2 separate regions of the Homo sapiens genome follow, and region 1 is linked to region 2. The links come from fine-mapping of genetic effects on gene expression. A gene starts in region 2. The other region holds a variant in brackets. All regions are shown on one strand. Distances are between the middles of the regions. Region 1 overlaps EXD2 (exonuclease 3'-5' domain containing 2). Region 2 holds the start of EXD2 (exonuclease 3'-5' domain containing 2).

Region 1 (15,809 bases), 53 kb after region 2:
ACTGTTTCACATCAGGGCCCCTGCACTGTGAGGGTGAGGCTGCCGACTACGTCTGAGTGCCCAGACACTTGGGCTTTCTCCCTGGCTTCTGTGGAGTCACTCACTTTCCTCCTTTCTCCCCTGCAAAGTGAGACAAAGTCATTGCTGCCAAGAGTTTTTCCTGAGAGCTTAGTTCTCCTTAGAAAATAATGATGAACCTGGTGAACCAGGGAAATAGATTAAGGTATTCCTCAGATGAAGGAAATTGGCTTTTTCAGGTTCCTAGGCCTTCTTGAGAGAGTTGTTTTCCAGTTGTCAAAGGCCATTAGAGTATCTTTTCAGTTCTCTGAGACTTTCCCTTCTGGGAGCACAGCCTTCTCAGAGGTTGTTATTAACCTGTCACTATGCTGGCCCACCACTGAAGCCCACAGCAGGTGGTCTGTACTTACTTGCAGGAGAGAGGAAGCTAAGACACAGATGGGCTGAGAGTGGAATAGGTGATACTGCCTTTCTGTGATCTGTGTTGGGCGGTGGTGCCCAAGGCTTCTCAGTCATGGTTAGGCCCCAGTTAGAACCCCAGTAGCCTGTCTGCTGTCTTCCCATGTGCTCTGTCATACACTTATGAGCGCTGCTTTCCGGCTGGGCTTGTTCCAGGAAGAACGTGATTCCACATGAGTACCGGAAGCACTTCCCCATCGAGATGAAGGACCACAACTCCCACGATGTGCTGCTGCTCTGCACCTCCTGCCATGCCATTTCCAACTACTATGACAACCATCTGAAGCAGCAGCTGGCCAAGGAGTTCCAGGCCCCCATCGGCTCTGAGGAGGGCTTGCGCCTGCTGGAAGATCCTGAGCGCCGGCAGGTGCGTTCTGGGGCCAGGGCCCTGCTCAACGCGGAGAGCCTGCCTACTCAGCGAAAGGAGGAGCTGCTGCAAGCACTCAGAGAGTTTTATAACACAGACGTGGTCACAGAGGAGATGCTTCAAGAGGCTGCCAGCCTGGAGACCAGGTACAAAGCACAGGAATTGTGGAATGTACCAGGGACATTAACCCTCATTACTTAGTGAGAATGCTTGCCAGGGAGGGGGCATTGGCTGCTTAGGCACAGTGCCTAGCCTCATGCTTCACCTAGTAGGTGTCTAGTAGTTTAAGATACCTTGGAAGTGGAATAGAACAATCTACTTGAGGAGTTCCTTTCCATAGGAAACTTGCTTTTGTGAGGTGCCTATCTTTGACCTTTTTAAAGATCATACACTTAATTTCGGTCATTTTTGTGATTAGCGTGCGAGTGCAGTTGTGGTGGAGCTGCATCTTACACATTCTATGCAGACGTAAATCCTCATGCCAGCACATGAGATGAAATAATAGTCCAATAACACCCTCGAAGTTCTGAAGTTCCCCATGAGATACAGTACATTCACCCCTCAGTATCCATGGGGGATTGGTTCCAGGACCTCCCTTGGATACTAAAATCCACCAATGCTTAAGTGCCTGATATACAATGGCATAGTATTTGCATATATCCTGCACACATCCTCCTGTATACTTTAAATAACCTGTAAATTACTTATAATACCTAATACAATGCAAATGCTATGTAAGTAGCTTTTATATTTTATTGTTTATGAAGTAATGAGAAAAAAGTTTGTACATGTTTGGTACAGATAGTACAGATAGTTTTTTTTTTTTTTTTTCCAAATAGTTTTGTGGTTTTTTTGTTTTGTTTTTTTGAGATAGTATATGGCTCTGTCACCCAGGCTGGAGTGCAGTGGCACTATCTTGGCTCACTGTAACTTCCACCTCCCAGGCTCAAGTGATCCTCTCACCTCAGCCTCCCAAGTAGCTGGGACTACAAGCATGCACCACCACACCCAGCTAATCTTTGTATTTTTTGTAGAGATGGGGTTTCACCAGGCTGCCCAGGCTGGTCTCAGATTCCTGACCTCAAGCAATCCACCTGCCTTGGAAGAACTGGGATTACAGGCATGAACCACTGTGCCTGGCCCCAAATCATTTTGATCTGAGGTTTGAATCCACAGATGCAGAACCCACAAAGATGGAGGGCCAATTCTATGTGTGGTTTTGTGTCTCCGACTTTATACAGGTCTGTGAGAACTGTGACTAATGAATTCATGGTTCCTATCTCACCTGCACTCCAGGGTATCGGCTCACTGAATGGAATGTTGAGCAGAATTGCTGTTACTATGTAAATTACTTTTCTCTTTTTTCCTTCCTTGCTTTCTCCCTCCTTCTCCATGAGTACATAGTTGAATTCTTGTGACACAATGCAGTATTCTGAAATGAGAAATGAATGGGCACGTGGCTCAGATGGTAAGAGCTCTGGGCTACCATGCGCAGTTCTGCCTCCCAACTGTCACTTTTTCCAACAGGACCAGGAGTTGAAATAAGGGAACTGATAAGTTCACAAAACCTTGAGCGTGATGCTGGTTTTTGTTAACTGAAAAATAAAAAAGTAACTCCAATTATAAGCAAATATTTAATTTTTTTAGAAAACAAAAATTTTTTTACTCTTATCCATTACTACTGATCCATTACAGATACTGCAAATATTTATTGAACAGTTATTTATAGATATACTATATCTTGCAGCAAACCAGCTAATAAACTTCACATAAATTGCCTTAATTGTTTCTCATGACAACCCGACAAAGTAGGATTTAGATTTCTTACTGGTTAACTGCTACTATATCTTAAATTTAAAAAATCTTTCAGGGTTTTAAAAGAATTATAGAATTTTATCCCCATAACTATTTTGTGAGGTTGTAGAATAGATGTTGTTTTGTAAGTAGCTGGGATTACAAGTGTGTGCCACCACACACGGCTAATTTTTGTATTTTTAGTAGAGGCAGGGTTTCACCTCGTTGGTCAGGCTGGTCTCGAACTCCTGACCTCAAGTGATCCTCCTGCTTTGGCCTCCCAAAGTGCTGGGATTACAGGCATGAGCCACCACGCCCAGCTGCCAATATGTTTTCTAAAGCAGCTAAACCTCCCCTTTCGGCCACAGACTTTTCTAACAAATTCATCTTGCTGAATTGGGTAGATGAATGCTGGACTTGTGACTGAGAAGAACAGTTGTTTGGAGACAGGCAAGTTAGTGGGAAGCGCATGAGCTAAATATTAATAATAAAGTGTCTGCAGATACCCAGAGACGCCAACACTGCTGGGGTGGCGGGTGTCTTGGGAGGGAGGATTGAACATGGGGTATGGATGTAGGGAGAGGAGAGTGTGTGTGGGCAGGGTGCTTCCTTGAGGAAGGTCATCTTTATTCACAGGAGGTGAAAGCACCATTCACACAGCATCGGAGCAGTTTTTTAAGGACTCTGCTTAGTTAGGAAGGAGGGAGGCATTCATCTTCTCATTTAATGGCACCATTTGCACAACTGAGCAACCATGGAAGCATTTCACTGTGACCGAAACACTTCTCACCACTGTGGCTTGGCATCTTTTTGTGAGAAAAAAGGCTCTAAAGAAATATGCTACCTTGCATTTGACATTCAGTTATTAAATTGTGTTGTGAAAAAGTGTAACATGCGGGCCGATTTAACAGCCTCATATAAATACTGTGTCCCAGAATGAACAACTTAAAAGAGGGGTGAACTGGTCACTGGGTAATCCTGGAAGAAATGGAAGACCAGCATTCTTCATCCATTATCAGCTGGATGGTAGTGCCCCTCTCGTGGGAGCTGAACATTATGAAGTGGCCTTCCTGTCAGTAGAGCTCAGAACCCTCAAATACCTTCTGTTGGGATTGCGAGTCGTATGTTCAGACTATAAAAAGGGCAGAGATAAGAAAGAGGATGTTTCGAAAACACCAAAGTAACTAACCCTTTAGGAGTCCTTCAACCTCCCCAGTTACCCTTGGCGCGCAGCATTTGAAGCTGTCTGTGAGGCCATCCTGCGCTTGTTTCCCTCAGACACTTTGTTTTTCATGTTTTGGCAGAATCTCCAATGAAAACTATGTTCCTCACGGGCTGAAGGTGGTGCAGTGTCACAGCCAGGGTGGCCTGCGCTCCCTCATGCAGCTGGAGAGCCGCTGGCGTCAGCACTTCCTGGACTCCATGCAGCCCAAGCACCTGCCCCAGCAGTGGTCAGTGGACCACAACCATCAGAAGCTGCTCCGGAAATTCGGGGAAGATCTTCCCATCCAGCTGTCTTGATAGCTGCTTTCCTCCCAGTTAGGACAAGTGGGAAGCTGGAGCCAAGGTTGAAGAGTCACCTCTTCCCATTTTAGTACATCATTAATTGTCAAAGCCTGTGTGACACAACTCAGAATACTAACCTAGACTAATCCCAGGATGCTTCTGCTGGAGCAAAGATATTGTTTGAAGGAGAGTTTATGGTTTTGGATTTTAAACGGGCAGGGTCTTTTTTCCTCTCATTTTTGTGGACAAGAGAGGCCTTCGCCTTTATTTTTACTCTCCCTCTTCTGCTGTCCCTGTGCAGAGGAAAAATGAAGAATTCTCCCAGAAGTGACTTGTCAAGACTTAAAAAAAATGTTTTTAATGCATTTCTTCCTTGTCTAGTGCCTCGGTTTATCTCTAACAGGGGCTGTCCAGTATATCGGTCCTGTTAGGAGGGGAGAAAAAGTTCTTCCAAAGGCTGGAGAAGTGAACAAGGAGTCAAATTTATTTTCCCAATTCAACTTCATAATTATCATTTCTTTGGCTTCATGCTCTCCCGTAACTCATGTGGTTGGGATCCATCCCATCTGGGTCACTTCAGTCTACTTCACGTACTTGAAAAGGCTTTCCTTTACACTTCCAGGACCAAACAGCAACTTCCTGCCACACACTTCCACCCTATCACTGGGAGAAATCCTTTTCTGGACATGAGCCTTTGACCTGGGTGGGGCAGAAAGAACCACAAACTCCATCTCCCAATAGAACTTTGAAATTCACTCAGCTTTTCCTTTCATGCTGTTTGTTGCCTGCTTGTTGCACTCCTCCTGCCCCAGAACTGCAAGATTTTTAGCTTCACCCCTTTCTGAGAGTAATGTTATCTTTTATCAGAATCAGTATCAGTTCCCCTGTATTCTGTGCTTCATCGAATTTGCAAGACTGACCTCTTTTAAGCATTTAATTCACTCCCAGAGTCATCTGGTCAGGTTGCAATATGAGGACTTCTCTGTCTCCTCTGAAGCCTGGGACACTGAGCTTACTTAATACATTAGATGTTCAAAAGAGGAGCGTTGTTTCATCTTTCAAAATGTTAGGCCATTACTTTGAGTATAAAATCGACTTATTAATGATTAGTAATTTTTCTAAAGTATTGGGAAAACTTTCTTATTTTATAAGATCTTAACAAGCTTAAAAAAGAATTTTATGACCAGAATCCAACAAGAGCTCTATTTTGGAATTGTGCCCAAGTTGGTGATGTTTACTCTAAAATTAATAATAAAACTACTTGTAAGCACAAGGCTCACTGGATGTAAATGTAAAACTTCGCGACTTTATAAAACTGGCATTCCTAGGGGAGGGGCTATTTATCCTACAGGTCCCTGCCTCCTGGCAGTGCCATGGTATGTGTGCATGGATATACCAGACACAGTCACCATCGGCCATCAGTAGCAGCCCATGAACCCACGTGCACATCCTGCATCTTGCTCTTCTGACCCTTCATTCCCACTTGTCTTCAGGCAGGCATTTCTGGGATCTAAACTAGAAATCCTTGAAAACAAATAGTACCAGCCACTTTGAGGAATGTGCATTCACTGTAGTGGGTTATTATGGGGTCTCTGCCTCCTGGCTGTGTTATGCGGAGCCCAGGAGTGGAGGAGAGCCGTGGAAATAGACAGGGAGAGGCTGGTACTTGGGTTGTGGTAATAGTCAGGCTTGCCACAAGAGGGCACTCATAGATTTGTTTTTATATTCATTCTTGAGAAAAAAGCAACTGGTTACTGAACGTAACTCATGACTTATGTTTCAAATTTTGCATAGCTGATTTTAAGTCATTTTGATAGCTTTGCAAGAAAAATTTTTCCTTTGAAACAAGGGAGTAGGGCTGTTTCATTTTCTTTCCTTCTAATCCTCATGCCAAGAGGTGAGAAACACTTAAGGTCATTTAAGGTGCTAGGGAAAGGGTTTTCCCATGGAGCTTTCTGTGAGGCGCAGTAAAATAGAGCCAGCAGCAAAGTAGAGGAAAAAGCCAGACTGCGTCACACAAGATTTCTCATCCTTTTCAGGAGAGAGTCACTGTGTAGATTTGAATCTTTTTTCTTTGAGTCTGCTTTGAACTTTAGCAGGCTTTTCCTAAGACTGACAATTGTCGTCTTAAATCAGAGATTTGAGGGTAGACTTATTTTATGGCAAATGTCTATTTTTCTGATATAAAAGTAACAATGCTCATTACAGAAGAATCTAAACAAAGAATAAAAATTAGCCATCTTCTCTCCATCTAAAACAGAGCTAAACTTTGCTGATATGTTTATGAATTTCCTTTCAGTATTAAAAAGTGCATATAAGGTGTATATTTACACAAAATTGAAGGTCATACATAGATACAGGTTGGTATCCTAACTTTACCCTCTCACTGATTAACATGGTATCACGAGTAACTTCCTATGTTTTTAAATCTTTGAAAATAGATTTCTAGTGGTTCTACCTTATCCATCCCCACACTGTTGAAAATTTTGGTTGTTTCAGATACTTTTATTATCAATGATGATGTGATAAAGTTTCTTGTATATATCTCTTTGGCTCTATCTTTGGTAATTTCTTAAGAATGGAATCTTAGAATTGGACTGTGAAGAGGGGGATTCACATTGCTGGGGCTAAGTACAAATTGACATCACCTTTTAGGAATGAAATGCTTCTCTTTGACCCTTTAGCTCCAGTGTCCCAGCATAGTCACTGGGCTTCATAGGAGTAGCAGTGAGAGGACAGTGTCACAGCAAGGGCCTCTCTGCATGCTCCCTGATCATTGTGTTTGCAGGTTCAGCATTTCTTCTTGAGTCCTTCCCTTCTTCCAACCTTATTGCCTCATTTCCCCCTTGTAGTCAATGTTTTTTGGAAACACTGTTTATTTTAAAATAAAAATGTAAAAAAAAGGTAAAAAAATAAAATTTTAAATTTTAAAATATAGGCTGTAGGCAGATGTTTTTTCCCTGCTACACAAACAATTAGTGATTTGCCATCCC[A/C]AAGTGAATGAGGCACAATATTCAGGGATTTGTTACGGCTTACGCTTAAGAGCACAGCCATAAGTTACTTATTCTTATCCATGTCACGGATAGAGATCAGATGACAAAATGTGTTCTGTTGAAATAAAGCCATTTTAATCATGCATTTTAGACTCTTAAGAATCCAGCAGGCAGAAAGAGGTTTTGTTCACCTTCCTATTCGCCTATTAGTTTGGGGCCCTAACATTTGACTGTAAGTTAAGTTCTTAGTTTACCCTGCCTCTCAATTTTTCATTCATTTATTTATCCTTTCTTCCTTTTTTTCCCCTTCCTTATGTCTCAGCCTTATAAGAAGTATCATTTTTTCTTTTAAAGGAGATATTTTCTCAGTTTGCTAGTTTACTAATTATTATGTATTTTAAATGGATCTTTCTTTCTGGTCTTTTATGTTTCCTATTATAAGATGGTTATTTTTTGAGAGTACCTAATCCCCTTAGGGATACACTGAGAATCAGTTTCTGTTGGAAGAGATAAACTAAAAGAGGGTATAAGAATGATTCTTGTTTTGATTAACTGTTGATTGATATGAATAACATAAAAATAATACATAATCTCCCCAGTACTTTTTTTTTTTTTTTTTTTTTGACATGGTCTCACTCCAGACTGGAGTGCAGTGGTGCAGTCATGGCTCACTGCTGCTTCAACCTCCAGGGCTCAGGCAATCCTCCCATCTCAGCTTCCCAAGTAGCTGGGACTACAGCCTTGTGGCACCATGCCTGGCTAATTTTTTAATTTTTTTGTAGAGATAGAGTCATGCTTTGTTGCACAAGCTGGTCTCAAACTCCTGGCCTCAAGCCGTCCTCTCACCTTAGCTCCCAAAGTACTGGGATTACAGGTATGAGCCACTGTGCTCAGTCCCCCAAATACTTTTGTTTTGGAATTCAGGTATAATTTTCAGGCATTCACCAAGATACCCCTTGTGCAAGAGCCCAGCACCTTCTGCCTGTCCCAGTCCTGGAGTAGTTTTGCATCAGGCAATGGAGTAGGGATGACGTGCAGCCACACAGCCCATGTGTTCAAAAGTACCGATTCCACCAGCCTGCTAGGAGACGTATTAGTCACTCCCTTTGCTTGAGGAAGCAAGGCCTTGCTTAAATGCTAGCATGTTATTTAGAAAGGTGGGAAGTACATTAGACCATTTTTTTTTTAACCAGCTTTATCTGTGGCCAACTCTGGTTGAAGGCCCCTAGAAACTGGGTAACTGGACCAAATGGTTAATCATTTGAGAGATAATCAAGAACTGCCTTTGCAGAGGAACAGAGTTGTCAAAGGACCTAGTTCATGCATCCTGGGTTGTACCCCCTTCTGATGTGGTGCAGGCTGCCTCAAAGGTCATTTTGTGTTGTGACTGAATGGAGATAATGTCATACCCTCCAGACTGAACTCAAAGCATTTGCTTTTTGCTATTTGTTATTCTTGAATTTTTCTCTCTTGCTGGATGGGTAGCCTGTTGCCTTTCTCCCAGCATAAGCTTCAAAAGCTGCCGAGTTTACAGGCAGCATTATTATAAGCATGATGTTTGGGTTCAGAAAATTCCTGAGTTGAAATGGCTACTTAGAATCTGCTTCTGCTGCTGCTGCTTTTTTTTTTGTTTTTTTTTTTTTTTTGAGACAGAGTTTTGCTCATGTCATCCAGGCTGGAGTGCAGTGATGCAATCTTGGCTCCCTGCAAACTCTGCCTCCTGGATTTAAGCGAGTCTCCTGCTTCAGCCTCCCAAGTAGCTGGGGTTACAGGCGTGCACCACCGCACCTGGCTAATTCTTGTATTTTTAGTAGAGACGTGGTTTCACCATGTTGGTCAGGCTGGTCTCGAACTCCTGACCTTAGGTGATCCGCCCGCCTCAGCCTCCCAAAGTGCTGGGATTACAGGCGTGAGCCATCGCACCCGGCCCCTACTTCTGCTTCCTAAAGATCTCCCTTCTCAGGCTGCAGCACGCCAGGGCGGAGTTGAGATTCTGGCCACTCAGGCCACCAGGGTATCTATTAAGTCCTGGGTAAGAAACAGAATTTTGAGCTTAGTCAGCTACAGGGGGCTGAAAAGGAATGAGACTGAAACATGGATAATTTTAAAGGAGGTATGTTTGTTTAGTGGGGATGGGGTAGGCTGGGGGCTTGTTCATGAACTGAACTTTAAATTTTGCTCTTTCCTATACCTAGTTCTGTCATGTATTGGAGGATCAAAAAAAAGTGTGCTGGTGACTGAGGTTCTGGTTCCAGCCACCAGCTGTGTGCCTTTGGACAGATCACTTTTCTGGGCTCCTTTCTGTATCTATAGAGGTTTGAATTAGATGTGCTGTAAGGGCCCTCCTAGCTGTAGCATTCTGTAATCCACCCCACTGTTTCCTTATGTGGCCCTTTCCCTTGAGTACTGTGTACTTTCTGCTTTGTTGCACACTCTCGTCCCACCCCCAGCGCTGGGAATGGAGACTGCATGGAAAGAAGGGTAATGAGGGAAGCAGGATGCCACACCATGGCCTCATTGACTAGGGAGAAGCCTGCTCTCTCCATCTGGTGTCAGAATACCTGTCTCACCAGAGATGTCTGTGTGTGGGGAGCTCACATTTCCCTATCGCCCAGTCCACTGAATAATCAGAAAGAGAGAAGGGAAATCTGTATGTTTAACCACATTGCCAGTGCTCTAGGATTTAATAGGAGATAAGTGTAAAAGGGAAATGAGGCAAGTGTGCCAGGTGTTGTAGATGGGAGGATATTGAGTGGGGAAAGACTGTTTCTCATTTTAAGGATAAAGAAATTAAGATTTTATATATATATACACACACACACGTATATATACATATATACGTATATATGTGTGTATATATACATATGTATATATACACACATATATGTATGTATATATGTATGTAATGGAGAATTGAATTGGGTACTTTGAAAAAAAAACCTTAAACCAATAAGTAAAAATACTCTTTCTGTGTTTTGTGTGTGGGGTTGTAACAGCCCAAGAATATTGGAGGCGTCCACACTGTTAACGTGTTCTTACCCATCCATGAGTGCTAAGACATGAAGAACTCACAGGGAGACAGGGAAGCATCTCCGGAGCCTGTTTTGTATAACCCTGACATGCCTTGGACTTTGTCCTGCTTGCCTTTGCCTTTGCCTGGGCATCAGCTAGACAGACATGTGCAAAATGTAAAGTTTGCATTTTATAAGCTGCTGAAGACATTTCTTTCTATATCTCCATCCCCTATGACCTGACAGAAAATACAATTTCTAGTCCATCCTTGTGCTTAGTTTCAGTCCCAAAGTGGATTGGCTTTTCATTGTGTAACACAGATTTGTATCAAATGTGTTCATCTTGGAGCTCTTTCCACAATAATCACCTAGATCTAGACATGAGCCCCTGCTTTTACCAAATTGGGGTCCTTTTGTTGTTTGTTTCAGAAAAAGTAGGCAGCTAGCCAAACAGGAAGCTCAACTACATTTCTCTGCCCTCTCCTCGATGGACCCTAACTTTATCTAAAATTCTGAAATTTCTCCTTATATCCCATGGAATCAACTAAAGCCCTGTTGGCTGGCTTCGTTTCTTTTTAATCACGATATGTATGTTTGGCCCTGGAGGTTTGGTAAGCCTGAGCTGTTGCACATATGGCTGCCTCTGAGTTCTTGGACACAATGAGCAGGACTAAAGTTGGCTACAAAAAGGAACAGAAGATGACTTAGGTTAGTTTTTCTTTTTTAAATGTTATACAAGTGCAGAGCACTTGGCTGCCATCCCCCTCTCAGACCATCAACAGAACTTGACCTTGGCCAAGATTTTGCCTCATCCTCTCGGCATTTCAGCATAGAGTTGCGTTTCAGCCATGGAATGCTTAACCAAAAGCACATGCTGTAGTGGTGGTTTCCAAAGAGTAAGTTTTTGCAAAAAGTCCACATAATGTTTCCTCATAACAGCAGCTTTCTCTGAACCACCAACCCAACAAACCTCTAAGTGGTGATTTTTTGGCTTATTTGTCCACAAGGACTGTGATTTTTTGTTTTGTTTTTAGCAATACTTTATTAAAGTGCAGTATAAGTAACATATGATAAAGTGCACACATCTAAGAATACAACTCAATGAATTTTGACAAATGCATATATCCATATAACCACCAGGGGCTGGTGTTTTTAATATTTTGTGAAGCACCTATTCTAATGATGTACGTTTTGGGATTGGAAGGTTGTGCATTCTTCTAGCTGAGAAAATTACTATAAAACAGTAAATCCAGATCAAAATGTGATGAAGATCCACCTGCCACAGAGAAAGTATTAATAGAATATAAGGCTAGGGTGTAGGAGAAGTGGCCCAGGAAAGCCATCCATGCAAATTTTGTTTCCTTCCTACTTGAGAGGGTTGGGGATGAGAGGTCCGTCCTTCCCTGGCTCATAAGCCCATGAGTTGTGTAAAACACTGTTCAGTAAGGCAGAATATAAGTCCTCTTATATATTGAGTCCAGACAGTTTTCCCTTTTGTCACATCTAGTGGATTTGGTTATTGCAAAGCTTCATGTTTGTTTTTAGTAAGTTAATTTTTAAAAATAGGTAAAATGTGCACATAGTATAAAATTTTTAAAAAACATATAATGAAAATCGCTCCAGTCTTTCTGCCCTCCTTGAAGGCAACCAGTGTTACTATTAATTTGCATCCCTCAGAGAGATTGTATGTGTGTGTGGTTTTGTTTTGTGTTTTAATTCCCAGGTTTCTTATTTGGTCGCGAACCAATAATATTCTCCACCCCTTTGTTTCACACTTTAGGCTCTAGTTTAGGGCATTTATGCAGAAACGTTTTGGATACTGCAGCCTGAGTAGGACTACTTCTTTTTGTTCTGTACCACGAAGTTCATCCTCTATATCTGTCAGCTGGTTCAAAAGTTCATGTTTCTCACAGGATTGGCCATGGGTTGAGAATCACTGAAGCTGTGTGTTTATCATAGTGGGCCCCCTCTCTCTCTATATATATATATATATATATTTGAAATTTTCCATTAAAAATGTTCTTTAAAAACTCAGTCTTTTGTTTGTTTTAAAGTAATGCTTAGTTGCAACCTAAAAGCAAACCATAGATTAATCTCTAGACAGAACCCCCTGCCCCACCATCCAAGTCAGACATTCAGAGTTCCCAATTTGCAAATTGTGACCTAGGATGGTTATTCACCTTTACAAGCCATCCTTCTGTTTAAACATAGGATTGACTTCAAATTTATTTTGAAAAGCCAGCTTCTCTGGCAGGTAAAATTTGATTTATACACTAATTCTTTCAAGAATATGAATATCATGCACAACAGAGGGCTTATATTCTGCCTTCTTGAACAGTGTTTTACACAACTCATGGGCTTATGAGCCAGGGAAGGAAGGACCTCTCATCCCCAACCCTCTCAAGTAGGAAGGAAACAAAATTTGCATAGATGGCTTTCCTGGGCCACTTCTCATAGACCCTAGCCTCATATTTTATTAATACTTTCTCTGTGGCAGGTGGATAAGGAGTCAGGTCTTCTCCAAATTAGAACTTCCCAAAGATACACAGTCCAGAGAAAGGAGCGAGGCTGTTGGTGTTTTCCAATTCAAGTCCCGTATGGTTTCCCTAGGGCCATTTTACCCTTGATGCCCTTTCATGCTCGCTCCTTTGTCTTGCCATAGTCTAAACACCCAAGGCCTCTCAGTCATCATTAAGAATATTCCCACTGGTCAGGGAGTGCCCTTTGAGCGTGCCCTTAAGAGCAGCTGTCAGATTTGAGCAGCATCTGCTTTCTGACAAGCTTGAAAACAGGATGAAGGAAGCCATTGAGTATTTCCCAGTGGAAATGGTACCACAAGCTGCCTTTGGGACTGTGTTCAATATGCGAGGAGTTTAGTGGCCTGGCAGCTTAGGTGGGGGTGGGGGATGTAAGTGTGGGTCATTCAGGATGGAGCAGGGATCTTCCCCATCCTGAATGGTCTCAGCCATGTCATCCATGCAGGGTCCTGATGCTGGAATCCTTCCCTCTCCCTCAGCCTTCGGCTCCAGCCTTTTCTGGGCAGGGAAACAGAATGAGGCAAAATGCCTGGTGTGTTTTAAATAGATTCTTCTTGTGGCAGCCAATGAGTCCAACAGCTTGGAAGGTGAGTGACCCTTCCCGAGAGACTTATGTTGTGCCATTTCTCTTGTCCCTAGCCCCTGGAATACTGACCACCTCGACCCCTCCTGCTGTCCTCCCCTTCGACCTAAACTCCAGTGATGTTAGCCATCCTCCTGCTGCTCCCTAGATGGACTGTCTTCAGGCTTTTCTGGTTTTAGTATTTATTACACTTCCCACTTGGCTTTTTCTGTCCCCAAAGCTGATTTTCCTCGTGCTATTTGTCCACTCCACCCAGTGCACATCCCCATCTGCTGCTGCTTGTCTGACTGTCATGGCTTCCCGATGATCTTCTTGCCTCCACCTTCCCGTGGCCTGCTTGGGGACAGCCCAGCCCCACCTGGGCCTGTGTGCAGCTGGGGAGGCAGGAGAGGCTGCTCATTGCAGTGGCAAACACTGGGGCCTGCAATGTGAGGTCAGCAGTCAGTGCTCCAGCACAGCCAGGACACCCCAGATTGAGCATGGGCAGCGTGCAGAGCCATTTTCAAAAGAGTATCTTTTAGCAAAGAGAGTTAGGACTTCAGAAGACCAATGTGGCCTCTTCCCACCCTATCCACGGAGACCACTTACAAGACCTAAGCATCATGATCTCTGGATTCCCAGTAAGGGGTCATACAAAGGAAGGACATGAATATTTTTTACTTGCTAAGGGGAGATTGGCTGTGTTGATTCTGGAAAGATGTAGGGTATGGGGTATGTGAATGGACGGTAGAGGCTCCTACCTCGAACAATCTCGGTTGTGGGGCAAGTGAGAGCTCCAGACTAGGAAGCAGACCTCAGTGATGATGGCTATTCTTGGCAGTGTGGCAGTGCCATAAGTCGGTGAAACAGGTAATGGGGGGGATCAGAAATCTGAGGAGGGGCATAGAGAACATAGGACACACAAGTGATGGGCCAGCACCCATTAAAGGTTAGAATCAAAAGAGGAAGGTCAGGTGGAGGCTGGATGTCATGAGGGAAAGTTGATGAGGAGCAGGCACTGGGGAGACCAGGGCAGTGGGACCCTGCCAGAGACCCTGCAGCTCAGCTCTGCCACATGGAGGCAAGCAGTTTGGGGATAAGGCCAGGAACAAAGGGATCTGTGAGGACCCTGTCTCCTACTCATCTCTTGCCCTTTTATTATTTTTTATGAGCCTGTCCTCATGTTATATTAGTAGTAGAAAACAAACAAAGGCAGTCTGCATTTGAAAGGGGATGGCACAGCCTGGAGAATTTAAGGCTGGATGTACTTCCCCTTTTGCTGAATTCTTAGGCCTCTTTGCCCATCTGCTGCTGGAGCTATGGGGCCAGTCCCTTACTGGAGCACTCTGAATGGAATCCCTACACAGCTCGACAGCTCAGATGAGTGCCGGCGGCAGGGGTAGCCAGCAGCGGGTGTGCACCCACAGAACCCCTCCAGGCCCATGGGGCAGCCGGGGGAGCAAGGCTGTTGGCCAGCCTGGCTAGAGAGGGACCCTTAGGGAGGGTCTGGTCTGAAGGCAGCTTCCAGCGTGTGACTCCAGCTCAGTCACTGGGCTCCTCTTCCCCTAGGCACTGAGCTGCAGAGAGGCCTGAGGTAGAAGAAAGAGGAAGGAAAACTTTTTTCTTGCTGGAAAAGAATTTTAGGTAAAGAGGTAAAAAAAATTGAAAAGGCACAAAGGGTATACAATGAAGGTCTCTCTCCTACTCATGCTCCCCTCAAACTCCCCTCCTCAGAGGCATCCCCAGATGTACCAATTTCTTGTACATTCTTCCAATTTCTCCTTTTTTAGTCTGCTGTAATCCAGAAGTTTCCAGATTCTTGAACAAATGGACTATTTTCAGTTGTTGGGATGTGTGTGTGTGTGTGTGTGTGTGTGTGTGTATGTCTGTGTGTGTGTAAGATGTAGAGGGGGGGATCAAATGATAATAAAGAAAATTGTATCCTAGTTGATTGCCCATCATTCTTGCTGAGGCAGGGAATGGTTTAAAACATTAAAACAAGTAAATAGAATTCTAAAATGCTAGCACTTGAAAGGACCTTCCAAGTACTTTTTTCTTTCTTCTTTTCTTTTTTCTTTTCTCTTCTTTTCTTTTTCTTCCTTCCTTTTTTTCCCAAAGCCCTCCCCATAAACATGAGGAAGAGGCCCAGATAAGTGACTTTTCCAGGGTCACCATGCTAGCTGACAGCATATCAGCTACTGAAGTGGAAATTAAAGCAGTGTTCCTGGAATTGGTATGTATCTTGAAGCTGTCAGTATGGCTGAAGATATCCATCGATATATTCTGAAGTGTCATTTCTAAAACCCAGGTTTCCCATCTCCCAGTTGTCCCAGTTGCCCAAGAAAATACTGCGTGCTCCATCTTTAGGTAGTGGTCTTTGTAAAGATAAGTGATTCAGAGGTGGAAGGAAAGACAAGTGATCAGACATGGATTTAGAAATTTTCTCCGGTGGACACAAATAGGAGGAAAGAAATTAGTAATTCCAGGAAAAGCCTGAAGTCAAATTCCAATTGAAAACAGAGCCTGTGCACACATGCACCCGCCCACCCACCCATACACAAG
Region 2 (15,809 bases):
CTGGGGAAGAAATCCAGTGGTCTAATGCTTCTGAAATAGACTTTGAACCAACTGTCCAATTTCAGCCCCCACTTTATCCCTGCTTCTGGGGGTACCTGGTGCTGCCAATTCTTGAACCTTTGGTGGTTCTCTGGGGCAAATCTGGCTTGCTTTTGGCTATCCCCTTTGATAGATGGCAAGTCTGCTAATTCAGCTCACACTATCCTCCTGCTTTCCAGCTTCCAAAATGTTAATAATTTGATCTCCTCTACTGTTCTCTGAGAGACGGATTATATAAACAGACAGTAGCCAGACCATATATGACAATAGAACTCTGACCCACAACCTCTGCAATTGGCCAGCCTGGGCAGGGCTTGGTCAATGAGTCAGCTTCCCTATATTTTGCCCCTATTTTCAACACAGGACCAACCAGAGAAAGCCAAACCATTACACAAGAAGCCCAGCCTCTAGTTAGCCCACCTGCAGTTTCCCCATGACAATGATCTCCAGTCAGAGCATACCGAAGCCTTCCCCTTTTTTCACTACAGCATAAAGTGTTTCCACTCCCTGCCTGCCTTCAAGTCTCACCAAAGTATAGTGGTATGGTGGCGGACTCCCAACGACAGCAGCCTCTGCATAAATATCCTCTCTTCTTATCTGAGTGGTTTTCATCATTTTCCTTATCTTTTTGATTTTGAAGTTTTATGTTAAAGCACTTTTTTTAAACCATTGTTCTAGAGGGATTTTAGAAGGAGGTGGGTTGTCTGTGGTTCAATCTATCAGCTTTAACTGGAGATCTCTTTCTGTGTTCTTTCCTCTGTGACTAGATGTCAGCTGTCCATCCTCTACCCTCCACCTCCAGCAGGCCCAGAAGTCACCTTTGTATTTTCCTCTTGCAAACCTGGATGCAAAATCCAATATGTATTCAAATTCCTCCAAAGAATCCGCTGGATCAAAAGGATTAGAGAATGACATAGACTTTGCTGAACCTTACCTGTGGAAGATAGAAGATGAAGTTAGGTAACATTCACAAACCCCGTAGCAACTTAAATTCAACTCCCCAAACATCTTAAACATTTCTTTCTCCCCTAAAGTCTCTCCTCTGTAGATATCTTCTTTGCAATAATTTTGGAGCCTTGCTGATTCCCTTCTCAATCTTTGATTGACTCACTGAGCTTTCTAATTCCTTATCCTTTTACCCTACAAAGCAATTCAGCTCGGCACCTCATTTTGCCCCAAACACACCACTTATTGCAGAAACAAAGTTCTCTAAACCACCAAAAACCCTTCTCATTTGCTAACAAACATTCTTTCTTGTGTTTCCAAGTAGCTCCAGAGCTTCTTGAGTGCACAGACAATAGCTATATATTTTATAGTCTGTATAGTACCTAATAATATTACCCAAATTTATAGAGGAAAGGAATCAGTGGGTAGAAAGCATGGATAGAATATCATCAGAAGGGCCGGGCGCGGTGGCTCATGCTTGTAATCCAGCACTTTGGGAGGCCAAAGCGGGTGGATCATGAGGTCAGGAGATCGAGACCATCCTGGCTAACGTGGTGAAATCCCGTCTCTACTAAAAATACAAAAAATTAGCCGGGCGTGGTGGCGGGCGCCTGTAGTCCCAGCTACTCGGGAGGCTGAGGCAGGAGAATGGCGTGAACCCGGGAGGCGGAGCTTGCAGTGAGCCGAGATCGCGCCACTGCACTCCAGCCTGGGTGACAGAGCAAGACTCCATCTCAAAAAAAGATTAAAAAAAATGAATATCATCGGAAGGGGCCAGGCACACTGGCTCACACCTGTAATCCCAGCACTTTAGAAGGCTGAGGTGGGAGGATTGCTTGAGGCTAGGAGTTTGAGACTAGCCTTGGCTGCACAGCAAGACCTTGTCTCTACTAAAAATTAAAAAATTAGTTGAGTGTGGTGGTGCACTCCTGCAGTCCCAGCTACTTGAGAGGCTGAGCGGGGAGGATTGCTTCAGCCCAGAAGTTTGAGGTTGCAGTGAACTAGGATCATGCCACTATACTTCATCCAGCCTGGGCAACAGAGCAAGACCCTGTTTCTTAAAAAAAAAAAAATCAATGGAAGGAAAGATTTTTCAGAAATAGTCTATCAGGCAGCGATTCCTCTAAATTTTGACCTCCATCATTATCTTCTACCTTTTTTGTGTATCTTCAGTGCTGGGCATTGTATTAAATAGGTTTTAGTTGACTGGTGTGGCATGCATTTATCATTAATATCTTTTGTTTTCCATATCAGTTAGGGATTGGATTCTACCACTAGTAACATTGACTGCAGTAGCTTAAGAAAATTAGAGGTTTATTTTCCCATGTAAAAGAAGTACAGGCTGAGTGTGGTGCCTCACACCTGTAATCCCAGCACTTTGGGAGGCCGAGGCAGGTGGATCACGAGGTCAGGAGTTCGAGACCAGCCTGGCCAATATGGTGAAACCCCGTCTCTACTAAAAATATAAAAAATTAGCCAGGTGGAGTGGCATGCACCTGTAGTCCTAGCTACTCAGGAGGGTGAGGCAGGAGAACCACTTGAACCTGGGAGGCAGAGGTTGCAGTGAGCCGATATCGTGCTACTGCACTCCAGCCTGGGCAACAGAATGAGACTCCATCTCAAAAAAAAAAAAAAGTTCAAAGTTCAGAGGTAGGTTGCTCAGGGTTAGTATGGAAACTACAGAAGGCATCAGGGATCCAGGCTACATCTACCTCTCCACTCCGTCTTCCTAAGCACCTGGATTTCATTTTAAATTGCCACTGTGATGGCAGAGAACTGTTGGAGATTCAGCTATCAGGTCTTAGTATAAGCAAGGAAGAAGGGGAAGGGCAATGACAAAAGGCAAAAGAGGCCTTGTGGGAGTTGTCTCTCCCCTCATTATTTATGAGACAGAATCTCTGTCTACCAGGCTAGAGTGCAGTGGCCCAGTCATGGCTCACTGGCAGCCTTGCCCTCCCTGGCTCAAGCAATCCTTCCACCTTGGCCTTCCAAGTAACTGGGACTACAGGCACAAACTACCATGCCCAGCTAATTTTTTACTCTTTTGTAGAAACGGGGTATCCCTATGTTGCCCAGCCTGGTCTTGAACTCCTGGGCTCAAGTGATCCTCCTGTCTTGGCCTCTCAAAGTGCTGGGATTACAGGTGTGGGCCATCACACCCAGCTCTGTCCTCTTCATCCCCTTTTTCTTTTCTTTCTTTCTTTTTTTTTTTTTTTTTGAGACAGAGTCTCTCGCTCTGTCACTCAGGCTGGAGTGCAGTAGTGCAATCTCAGCTCACTGCAACCTCTGCCTCCCAGGTTCAAGTGATTCTCATGCTCCAGCTTCCCAAGTAGCTTGGATTACAGGTATGTGCCACCACATCCAGCTAATTTTTGAATTTTTAGTAGAGATGGGGTTTCACCATGTTGGTGGTCTTGAACTCCTGACCTCAAGTGATCCGCCCGCCTTGGACTTTCAAAGTGCTGGGATTACAGGAATAAGCCACCGCGCCCAGCCTGTCACCTTTTTAGAAACATTACCAAAAGTCCCATGCAAAAACTTTTGCTTATAACTAATTAGCCAGAACTTAGTCACATGGCCACACCTACTCCTAATGAAGACAGAAAATTGTATTTTGTAAATGCAATTGTTTAATGCCCCCTAAGTGGAAAGGGAGAATGCATACTAGGTGGGCAACCAGCACTTCCGGCCACAGTTCCTCGTGAATTTTCTGCACATGATGTCCCATGAATCCCTAGCCCAGTGCTTGACATTAAGTTGTCCTTGGAATGAATAAACAAATGAATAAAGTATTTTAGATAGTTCACACAATAACCTTTTTTAAAAAAAATTAATTGACTTTATTTCTAGAGCAGTTTTAGGTTTACAGAAAATTTGAACAGAATGTGCAGAGAGCTCCCACATACCTCCCCTCACCACATGCAGTTGCAGTTTCATCTATTATTGACATCTTGCACGGGTATTGTACATTTGCTACAAAATTATATTGATACCTTATTAGCCAAAGTTTATAGTTTACATTAGAGTTCACTCATCATGTTGCACAGTTCCACACGTTTTGACAAATGCCTAATGTCATGTATCCACCATTACTGTATCACACAGAATAGTTTCACTGGCCTAAAAATCCCCTTGCTCCAGCTATTCCGCCTTTCCTCCTCCCCTGGAATCCCTGGCAACCATTGATCTTTTTACTATCTCTACAGCTTTGCCTTTTCCAAAATGTCATACTGTTGGAACCATACGGTATGTAGCCATGGCAGACTGACCTCTTTCACTTAGCAATATACATTTAAGGTTTCTCCATGTTATTTTTTGCAGCTTGATAACTTCTTTCTTTTTAGTTCTGAATAATATTCCATTGTAAGGATGTACCAGTTTGGTTATTCTTTCACCTACTGAAAGACATCTTGGTTGTTTCCAGCTTATAAATAAACCTGCTGTCAACATTCATGTGCAAGTTTATGTGTGGTCCTAAGTTTTCAACTCATTTTGGTAAATACCCAAGGGTGTGGCTGCTGGATTGCATGCTGAGACTATCTTTACCTTTATAGGAAACTGCCAAACTGTCTTCAGAAGTGGCTATACCATTTTGCATTCCCAACAGCAATGAATGAGAGTTCCTGTTGCTCCACATCCTTAGCAGAATTTGGTGTTGGCAGTGTTTTGGATTTTAGCCATTGTTTAACCTCCGCCCCCAAGACTCAAGCGATCCTCCCACAACTGCCTCCCGAGTAGCTGGGACCACAGGTGTGTGCCACCACACCCAGCTAATTTTCGTATTTTGGGTAGAGGTGGAGTTTTGCCATGTTGCCCAGAGTGGTCTCAAACTCCTAGGCTCAAGTGATCCACATGCCTAAGTCTCTCAAAGTGCTGGGATTACAGACGTAATTTCCAAGTACACGGAGTTTTAAAAATAATCCTTTCTTTCCCTTCCTTCCTTCCTTCCTTCCTCCCTTCCTTCCTTCCTTCTTCCCTCTCTCCCTCTTTCTTTCTCTCTCTTTCGTTCTCTCTCTCTCTCTTTTTTTTTTTTTTGATGGAGCCTCGCTCTGTTGCCCATGCTGGAATGCATTGGCACGATCTCGGCTTACTGCAACCTCCGTTTCCCCAGTTCAAGCAGTTCTCCTGCCTCAGTCTCCCAAGTAGCTGGGTTTACAGGCATCGGCCACTGTGCCTGGCTAATTTTTGTATTTTTAGTAGAGACAGGGTTTCACCGTGTTGGCCAGGCTGGTCTTGAACTCCTGACCTCAGGTGATCCTCCTGCCTCAGCCTCCCAAACTGCTGGGATTACAGGCATGAGCCACCGCACCCAGCTTCATGATTGATTTCTAACTTAATTGCAATGTAGTCAGAGAATGTGATCTGTATGATAGCAATTTTTTGCAATTTGTAAAAAGTTGCTCAATAGCCTACATTTTTAAAAATTATTTGATTTTAAAAACAGCAACCAGTTAGATAATCAATGGCCTAAATCAAAATTAATTTTCTTAAATCTTCCCTGTAAATGTGAAAAGTATATTTGAGAACAATTTGTGTTTTCACATCGTTGAGGACATAGTTCTTTTCTTTGTCTTCCTCAGGAATGGAGGGTTCTTTACATAGTTCTATACATGCTCCTTAGAAAAGGTTAATTAATTATGTCAGACATTCCCATAATGACTGGTGATTCTTGGATGTCTTCTCATATTTAAAAGTGAGAAACTGTATTTTAAAAGCTGATTAGAAATTCTGTATGCACAGATGAGTCTTGTTGACTGGGCCTTAATGTAGAGTGATTGCTTGTGAACCCAGACAGTTCTTTATGAAATCCTCCAAATGTCAATATTCTGCTATTCTTTTTGTTTTTAATTATTAATTTTTGTGGGCACACAGTAGATGTACATATTTATGGGGTACATGAGATATTTTGATACAAGCATACAATGTATCTGCCATTCTAATCTAATTTCTATCTTTTAAAATTGTATCTTTTTTTTTAGTTTGGTACTATGTCCTTTCCTGTTCTTTCTTCTTTGGGTTAACAAACTTTTCACTCCTTTACTATCATTTTTAAAAACCCTTTTATCGAAGTATATATGAAACCAGAAAAGTGCTCACAAATATAACCTGAACACACATGTAAAGCCGCACTCAGATTAAGAAATAGAACATTATCAGCACTTCGTGAACCTCCTCATGTTCCCTTCCAGTTATTACTACCCTAAGATTAATCATTATATACAGTGACTTCTAATAGCAGGGATATTTGGGTAGTTTCCCGTTTGGGGCTGTTGAAAGTATGGGTATGAGCTTTTTTTTGTACATGTCCTTTTGGTGAATACATGCAGACATTTCAGTTGCATATATATAACTAGGAGTAAAATTGTTTTTTGTTGTTTTTGTTTTCGAGACAGGGTCTAGCTCTGTCACCTATGCTGGACTGCAGTGGTGTGATCACAACTCACTGCAGCCTCAAACTCCAGGGATCAAGACGTCCTCCTGCCTAAGCTTCTGGAGTAGCTGGGACTACAGGTGCACACCATGATGCCCAGCACTTTGGGAGGCCGAGGTGGGAGGATCGCTTGAGGCCAGGAGTTCAAGACCAGCCTGGGCAACACAGTGAAAATCCCTAAAGTGCTGGGATGACACGTTGAGCCACTGTGCCCCAGCTAGGGGTGAAATTGTTGGAACAAAGTCTTTTCACATATTCAGATTCAGTTGATACCGCCAAACAGTTAAACAAAGTGATTGCATCAATTTATGTTCCCTTCAGGAGCATATGAGAGTTGTGGTTGCTCCACAATCTTGCCAATACTTGACATTTTCTTTTTCATTTAGCTATATCTCATTGTGGTTTTAATTTGCATTTCCTCTTTATCCTTTGTTTTTTAAGTGTTTCAAGATGGAGCAGATAAAAATTCAGGGAGTTAATCCTCTATAATAGCTGGAAATTTCCCCCATGGGTACTCATTCAATGGAATTTAAAACATTTGCCCCTGTATTGAAGGCAATATAGTATAAAGGATGGGGCCACATGCTCTGCAATCAGAAATATGAGGTTTGATTCCTAACTCCGGTGCTTACTTGCTGAATTACCTTGAGGAAGTTATTTAACCTTTTTCTATTTTATGTAAAACGGCACTAATAATAGTACTGCCTCACAGGGTTGTTATGGGGATTAAAGGAGAAAAAATAAGTAAAATGCTTTGCAAAGTTCCTAGCAACAGGTGAGCACAAAGTCAACAAATGGTAGCTATTATTATACCTTATATTGGTTATTTATGCACATCTCATTTCTCCTTCTGTTTTACACATTCCATGAGAAAGGAAAAGCATGCATGTAGCACAGATTAACTGCCTCACATATAATTGCTAATAAAGACTGATTGGATGAACGATTTAATATATAAACAAAAAGTATTGTGGTTATCGCTATAAAAGATGGCATAGGTTGGGCATTCACGCCTGTAATCCCAGCACTTTGGGAGGCCGAGTTGTGAGGTTCGCTTGAGCCCAGGAGTTCGAGACCAGCCTAGGCAATGTAGGGAGACAGTATCTACAAAAAAAAAAAAAAAAAAAAAAAAGGAGGGTACATAAAATTATTATAGTGGCTATAGGATAATGTGCACTGCTAATGAAGACTACATTATTTAAATACAGTGTCTTTCCTTCTATTTACTGTTATCGTTTAGCAGAAAAACAGTACGCAGGATACTAAAGAAGGAAAATTCGATGTCCCATATTACATTTGTGAGAGTTCTGGAGGTTTCTCCCTTCAAAGCCAAAACCAAAACACAAACATACCATCCCAGTAACAAATGCGTCACTTTTCTGAAGAAGACGTTAAGCCCTTCCAATTTTAACAGATCCTTTGTTCAACAGAGGAGAGAGACTGGGTAGGCATCACCTGCCCCAGTAGCTTCCGTACAAAATGGCGTTGCCCGTTCCCACACGCCAGCTGGGATTACGTCCTCCAGGCCTGTCGCAGGAACGGAAGTGGTTACGGCCCTAGTGAATCCGGGTGGGTGCGCGCAGGCGGCCGCACAGGTTCCAGGTCTTTAACGTGAGCCCGCTGCAGGTGTGCGGCCCAGTCCGAGACAGCAGGTAAGTGAGGCTCAGAAGCCGGCGAAGCCTTGCACCAGGATTGTGCGCGGGGCAGGGGGTGCTTCCAGTGCAGACTAAGAGGGGTCGTGGAGCGGGGGGATATTACCGTGTACGGGGGTGACATTGCGGGGCCCCCGCTGTCCCGGAGCGAGTTGGCCCTGCCCCTCTCCCCGCCCCTCGGCGTGACCCCCTCGCCCCCGTCGCACACGGCGGGGCGGTTCAGCACCCAGGTGCGCAAGGAGGGCCTCACCCCTGCCCGCGGCCTCCCACGCCCTCCTTGGGCCTCTCCTTTCGACCCCCTTACCCTCTCCCTGGGAGACTCTACCAGACCTTCGAGGCTGCGTGTCCCAGTCAGCTAAAAAGGAGGCCCCGCCCGCGGCACCTGGTAGCTCCTCGGGCGCTGCGGGTTCGACGCGGCAACAGCTGCTGTTTTCTCTCCTGGATTCGTGTGAGCCGCCACCCTCGCTACCATCCCTGTCCTCCCAGACCACACCCTGCTCTGGGCCTTGCCGGGAGCCACCTCTTTGGCTTTTCACATCCCTGGGATGGATCAAAACTAAGAACCTTAATCATTATTTATTACAAAATTGACATCTGCTCCTTAAAATACAAACAAACCAATCCCCCGATAAGCTTTTGATATGATTCCAACATTCAAACTCCTTTATATACCCTCTCCTCAAAAACACAAAATTGAAATTATACTTTATTTTCTTAGTTCTGTTCCAAGGATAGAAGGAATTGAAAGGTTTTGTTAATCATAGGAATTAGGAAGTGCGGGTTGGGGCGCAGCGGGGAAGATGGATTAAATTTGGTCAAGTTGAGCTTGTTTTAAAAATGTATTTTTAAAATATTCTAGTTATAGTCCGTGCATAAAGCCTTGTAACAAAATTATGTAAAAATTTTAAACACAGATCTTTCTTAGCTTGATGTTCTTGGTGGTGAGGGTGGGGAGTGTGGAAGACAGATCCTCTTTGATTTTGTTTTTTTCCATCTCCACCTTCTTTACCAGTCCCTTTCCCACAAAATAAGAACTGTTGTCAGTTTGTGTGTATTTTTCTTTGCATTTATTTGACAAGTATGTGTACGTATAAGATATATGTTTGTAAGATTTCGCTTTAAACTTTTACAAATATGCATGTTTTATGCATTACACAACTTGACGTTTTATGCTTAAAAACGGGTCTTGGAATTTTTTCTTTGTCAGTACCTAGAGATCTACCTATTCTTTCTACTTGCTCTGTAAATTCCATGGTTATGTAAGATTCCATAGATTGTTTCCAGTTTTTCATTGTTAGACACAGTATGGCGGAGAACATCCTTCCCACACACCTCTGTGAGAGCCCATGTGAGAGCATTTCTCAAGGATGGGTACCTGCAGGTGGAATTGCTGGGTGGGAGAGTATGGGGATTTAGGAATGCCAAACTGCCACCCACGGTGGATAATAATTTCCTCCATTCTCTCTCTCTTTTTTTTTTTTTTTTGAGACAGAGTCTTGCTCTGTTGCCCAGGTTGGAGTGCAGTGGCGTGATCTCAGCTCACTGCAGCCTCTGCCTCCCAGGTTCAAGCGATTCTCCTGCCTCAGCCTCCCGAGTAGCTGGTATTACAGGCACCCGCTACCACGCCTGGCTAATTTTTGTATTTTTAGTAGAGACGGGGTTTCACCGTATTTGCCAGGCTGGTCTCAAACTCCTAAACTCGAGTGATCCGCCTGCCTTGGCCTCCCGAAGTGATGGGATTACAGGCGTGAGCCACCGTGTCTGGCCCACCATGCTCTTTTGATCATTTAATGGTATCGATCTTTTTTGTTTTTGCCAATCTGATGGATGGAAAAGTGATTTCTCTTTGCTGTTTTAATTTGCATTCCCCTGATTACTATTGAGATTGAACATCTTCATGATTGTCAGCCATTTGTATTTCCTCTTTTGAGAAACATCTCTTTCTATTGGATTGTCTTTTCCTTATTGATTTATAATAGTATTTTATATGTTCTGGATTTTGATCTTTTGTTATTCATATGTGTTTATAATATTTACTCCCTGCTTATTGCTTTTTTAAGTTGTTGCTTGTCTTTTAACTATATGGCATCTTTGTTGAAACAAAGTTTAAAATTTTAGGTTTTAATTTATCAGTCTGTTATGTGTGTGTTTGTATTTTGTGGCTATCATTCCCAATCCGAGTGGTTCTTAAATGGCAGAGATTTTTGCTCTCGGGGTTATTTGGCAATGTCTGTAAACATTTTTTGTTTGTTCCACTAGGATGGTGCTGCTATTGGTTATCTAGTGAGTAAAAGCGAGGGTGCTGCTAAACATCCTACAGCGCACGGGAAAGCTTCCCACAACAAAGAATTTCACCAGCCAAAAATGTCAGTTGTGCTGAAGTTGAAAAATCCTTCTCTACTTTTAGAGAGAGGAGGGTTTTCTCCTAAAGCTCTGTTTTCTCCTTGAAGTTCTTCTTGTGGGAATAGTTTTTTTTCTTTAATTCCTCTGGAATTGTGTGTGTGTGATTGTTGTTTTCCAAATACTGTCACCTCGAACAGTCAGTCCATTCTTTTTTTTTTTTTTGAGTCAGAGTCTCGCTGTGTCGCCCAGGCTGGAGTGCAGTGGCGCGATCTCAGCTCACTGCAACCTCTGCCTCCCGAGTTCATGCCATTCTCCTGCCTCAGCCTCCCAAGTAGCTGGGACTACAGGCGCCCACCACCTCGCTTGGCTAATTTTTTGTATTTTTAGTAGAGATGGGGTTTCACCGTGTTTGCTAGGATGGTCTCGATCTCCTGACCTCGTGATCCACCTGCCTCGGCCTCCCAAAGTGCTGGGATTACAGGTGTGAGCCACCGCGCCCGGCCTAGTCAGTCCATTCTTGAACCATTAATCCGAAATGCCACACTTACCATGTACTAATTTCTTTTTTTTCTTTTTAATTTTTATTTGTAGAGATAGAGATGAGTTTTTGCTATGTTGTTCAGGCTGGTCTCAAACTCCTGGCCTCAGGAGATTCTCCCCCATCAGCCTCCCAAAGTTCTGGAATTATGGACATGAGCCACCTCGCCTGGCCTCATGTGCTCATTTATCATACAGGATCTGTTTCTAGACTGTCTTCTGTTCTATGGCATACTTTTCTATTTTGCTGGACCAATACCACAACATCCTATATTAAACTATATGTTATATGTTGACATTAATAGGGTAAATACTCCATCATGATTATTATTTTATTGGAAGTCATATACTATATCAGCTCATGTACTCTCATTTAAAAAACAATATTTTTGGTTATTATTAGTTTCTTTTCCAGATTAATTTTACAGTCAACTTGTCAATTATTTTTTTCTTTTAAGAGATGGGAGCCGGGCGCGGTGGCTTACGCCTGTAATCCCAGCACTTTGGGTGGTTGAGACGGGCGGATCACCAGGTCAAGAGTTTGAGACCAGCCTGACCAACATGGTGAAACCCAGTCTCTACTAAAAATACAAAAATTAGCCGGGCGTGATGGTGTGCGCCTGTAATCCCAGCTACTCAGGAGGCTGAGGCAGGAAAATCACTTGAACCCAGAAGGCAGAGGTTGCAGTGAGCTGAAATTGCACCACTGCACTCCAGCCTGAGTAACAGAGCGAGACTCTGTCTCAAAAAAAAAAAAAAAAGAGAGATGAGGTCTCACTCTGTCACTCAGCTGGAGTGCAGTGGCAGCCTTGACCTCCTGGGCTCGAGTGATCCTCCTGCCTCAGCCCCCCAAGTAGCTGGGACTACAGGTGTGTACCACCACACTGGCTAATTTTTGTATTGTTTATAGAGATGAAGTTTCACCATGCTGCGCAGGCTGGTCTTGAACTCCTGGGTTCAAGTGACTCACCCGCCTTGGCCTTCCAAAATGCTGGGATTACAGGTGTGAACCACCACACGCAGCTCCAAATCATTTTTTAATGGCTTTATTGAGAAGTAATTCACACACCATACAATTCTTCAAAGTGTACAATTTAATGATTTTAGTATATTCATAGAGTCGTGCAAACATCACCGTAGTCTAATTTTAGAACATTTTTATCACCCCAAAAAGAAACCCATACCAATTAGAAGTCAGTCCCTATCCCTGACTCCCCTGAGACCCCAGCCCTAGGCAACCACTAATATTTCTGTCTTTCGAGATCTGGGTGTTTTGTGTAAAAGGAATCATACAATGTGTAGTCTTTTGTGACTGACTGCTTTAACTTAGGATAATGTACTGAAGATTCTTCCATGCTATAGCATGTTTCAGTACTTCATTCTTTTTATTACTGAATGAAATTTCATCCTGTGGTATATTTATTTTGTAGGGCTGTGGTCAAAGTAACACAAACTGCTGACTTAAAACAACAGAGGTTTATTCTCTCGCAGTTAAGGAAGCTAGAAGTTCAAAATTAAGGTGTCAGCAGGGTTGTGCTCTTCCTGAAGGCTCTAGGGGAGAATCCTACCTTGCCTCTTCTAGTTCCTGGTGGTTGTTGGCAATCCATGGCATTTCTTGGTTTGCAGTTGCACAACTTCAGTTTCTGCCTCCGTCTTCAAATGGTCACCTTCCCTGTGTGTCTGTCTGCACATTGGATTCGCTCAGCGTAAGCCTGTTTCTTCTCCTCCTCCTGTAAGGACACAAGTCATAGTTGATTAAGGGCGCACCCTACTTCAGTATGACCTCATGTTAACTTGATTACATCTGCGAAGACCCTATTTTCAAATAAGGTCACATTCACAGGTCCTGGGGGTTAGACCTTCAACATATCTTTTTGGGGAATACGATTCAACTCATAACATACGGATATGCTACATTTTATTTATCTGTTCATCAACTAATTGACATTTGAGTTGTTTCCACTTTTGGGCTATTATGAATAGCTATGAACTTTAGTACGGACATGTGTTTTCATTTCCCTTGGGTATATACCTGCCAGTGGCATTGCTAGGTTATATAACTGCCAGACTGTGTTCCAGAGCAGCTGTACCATTTGACATTCCCACCAACAATGCATGAGATTTCTAATTTCTCCACATTATTGCCAGCACTTTTTTTTTTTTTTTTTGAGAGACAGGGTCTTACTCTGTTGACCAGGCTGGAGTGCAGTGGAGTGATCAAAGCTTACTGCAGCCTCAAACTCCTGAACTCAAGCAATCCTCCTGCCTCAGCCTCCCAAGTAGCTAAGTCTATAGGCACACTACCACTCCTGGCCAATTAATTTTTTTTTTTTTTGAGGCAGGGTCTCACTATGTTGCCCAGGCTAGTCTCAAATTCCTGGCGTCAAGTGATCCTCCCACCTTGGATCAGAGTGCTGGAATTACAGGTGTGCACCACCATACTTGGCCTTATTTGTTTTTTTGAATAGAACCATCCTACTTGGTGTAAAGTGGTATCTGATTGTGGTTTGGATTTGCATTTCCCTAACAGCTCATGATATTGAACATCTTTTCAAGTGCTTATTGGCCATTTGTATACCCTCTATCAGGAAATGTCTATTCAGTTAGCTGGACTTGTCTGTTCAGTTAGCACACTTGTAGTCAAGAGGCTGAGGCAGAAGGATCACTTGAGCCCAGGAGTTTGAGGCTGTCGTGAGCTGTGATTGCATCACTGCACTGCAGCCTGGGCAACAGAGCCAGATCTCGTCTCTAAAAAATATATTAAAAAATAAAGAACAGAAATACCTATTCAGATTCTTAGCCAGTTTTTAAATTGGTCTGTCTTTTTATTATTTGGTGGTAAGAGATTTTTGTGTATTCTAGATACACACCCTTCCCAAATATATGATTTGTAAATATTTTTTCCCATTCTGTGGGTTGTCTTTTCGCTGTCTCGATGGTTGATTCATTCTTTTTTTTTTATAATTTCAACTTTTATTTTAAATTCAGGGTGGTACATGTGCAGGTTTGTTACATGGGTAACATGTTATGCTGGAGTTTGGGGTATGGATGAGTCCTTCACTCAGGTATTGGGTATAGGTCGTTTTTCAGCCTGCGGCCCCCTTCCCTGTCTTCCCCTCCCCTCTGGTAGTCCCCAGTGTCTGTTGTTCCCGTCTTTATGTCCATGTGTACTGGGTGTTTAGCTGCACTTACAAGTGAGAACACGCAGTATTTGGTTTTCTGTTCCTGCATTAATTCACTCAGGTCGTGGCCTCCAGCTGATCCATGTTGCTGCATCCATTTTTCTCATCTGCACACAGTCAATTCATTCTTTTAAAAAGTTTTTTAAAATGAAGTTTGTATTGAATTTACATATTATTTTGAGTATTTCTATAAAACAATCTTTTCTTCTTATCAAAAATAGGATAATTATAGTACCTCCCACATAGGGTTATTGAAAGGATTAAATGAATACTTTAATATGAGTATATATGTACATGTAAAGTGCCTGGCACATGATTGGTCCTGTTTGACAGCTGCTATCATACATCTCCACTCTTCTGGTCTTCTTCTAGATCTTCACTAAAGTTTTCTGTTCCTCTTTGTATTGATCTGACACATTTCTTGTTGAATTCTTTCCTAGACTTGTGTATGTGATTATGTGGTTTTTTTATGTAGTTTTAAAATAGTATACAGGTATATTGCTATTATGAATGAGATTTCTTTTTTCACATTTTTATAATAGGTTTGGAAAGCTATTGATTTTATACTCATCAGACTTTCTGAATTACCATATAATTTCTAAAAGTTGGTTGATGACTTTGTTGTTTTTCCAGGTGGTTGTGATGCAGTCATTCTGTTCAGGAGCTGTGGTTCTTTTTCATTCTACATTCCTCTGCCATAATTCGAGTATTCTTTGCCTCTCCGCTCTGCTTTATGAGCTTCTAACAGGTCTCTCTGCCTACGGCCTTGCTCTCCTCCAGGCTAGCACCCACATTAGTACCATGGTGGTCTCATCCTGTCACTCTCCTTATAAGTCTGTTATTTGCTCTCCAGTGTCCTGTAGGATAATGATGGCCCCTCATGACTTGTCCTGTATCTACTCATTCCAGCATCATCTCTATTTCCTTACTTGCACATTATATTTTAGCACAGTAGTGTCCATTAGAAGTAGAATGTGAGCCCCAATTTAAAATTTTCTAGTAGCCACATTAAAGATATAAAAAGAAACAAGGTGAACTGTAGTAATGGCATCACTTAATGAGGATCTGTTCTGTGAAATGTGTCATTTTGTGAACACGATAGAGCACACTTACACGAACCTAGATGGAATAGCTGACTACACACCTAGGCTGTATGGTATAGCTTATTACTCCTAGGCTATAGACCTATATGGCATGTTATTGTACTGAGTCCTGTAGGCAGTTGTAACACAGTGGTAAGTATTTGTGTATCTAAACATACCTAAACATAAAAGTACAGTAAAAATGTGGTATAAAAGCTAAACAGTGGGCCGGGCATGGAGGCTCACGCCTATAATCCCAGTACTTTGGGAGGCTGAGGCGGGCAGATCACCTGAGGTCAGGAGTTCGAGACCAGCCTGGCCAACATGGTGAAACCCCGTCTCTACTAAAAATTTAAAAAATAGTCTTGTGTGGTGGCACACGCCTGTAGCCCCGGCTACTCAGGAGGCTGAGGCAGGAGAATCGCTTGAACTTGGGAGGCAGAGTTTGCAGTGAGCCGAGATCACGCCACTGCACACCAGCCTGGGCAACAGAGTGAGACTCCGTCTCAAGAAAAGATAAATAGTGTTACACTTATGTAGGGTATCTACCATGCATGGAGCTTGCAGGACTGGAAGTTGCTCTGGGTGAACCTGTGAG

What was found. PIP is the estimated chance that this variant, and not a neighbour inherited with it, causes the effect.
Region 1: its variant is fine-mapped to the expression of EXD2 in blood mononuclear cells (TOPMed, PIP above 0.99).

Annotation. Positions count from the first base shown.
Region 1 is chr14:69,236,942-69,252,750 of GRCh38, forward strand. EXD2 (exonuclease 3'-5' domain containing 2) reads left to right here. Exons shown (of 10, transcript NM_001193360.2): 9 at 634-990; 10 at 3,943-7,077. The coding sequence ends at 4,159. The region is part of intron 2 of GALNT16-AS1 (GALNT16 and EXD2 antisense RNA 1); the gene reads right to left. Among named protein-coding and RNA genes, the nearest start is that of GALNT16, 15 kb to the right of the region's middle. RefSeq lists an enhancer at 1,781-2,405. The variant A/C (reference allele first, on the strand shown) is at 7,138.
Region 2 is chr14:69,183,525-69,199,333 of GRCh38, forward strand. EXD2 (exonuclease 3'-5' domain containing 2) reads left to right here and starts at 7,974. Exons shown (of 10, transcript NM_001193360.2): 1 at 7,974-8,067. It overlaps GALNT16-AS1 (GALNT16 and EXD2 antisense RNA 1), which reads right to left. Exons shown (of 4, transcript NR_184249.1): 3 at 12,516-12,677; 4 at 1-973. RefSeq lists a silencer at 8,195-8,384.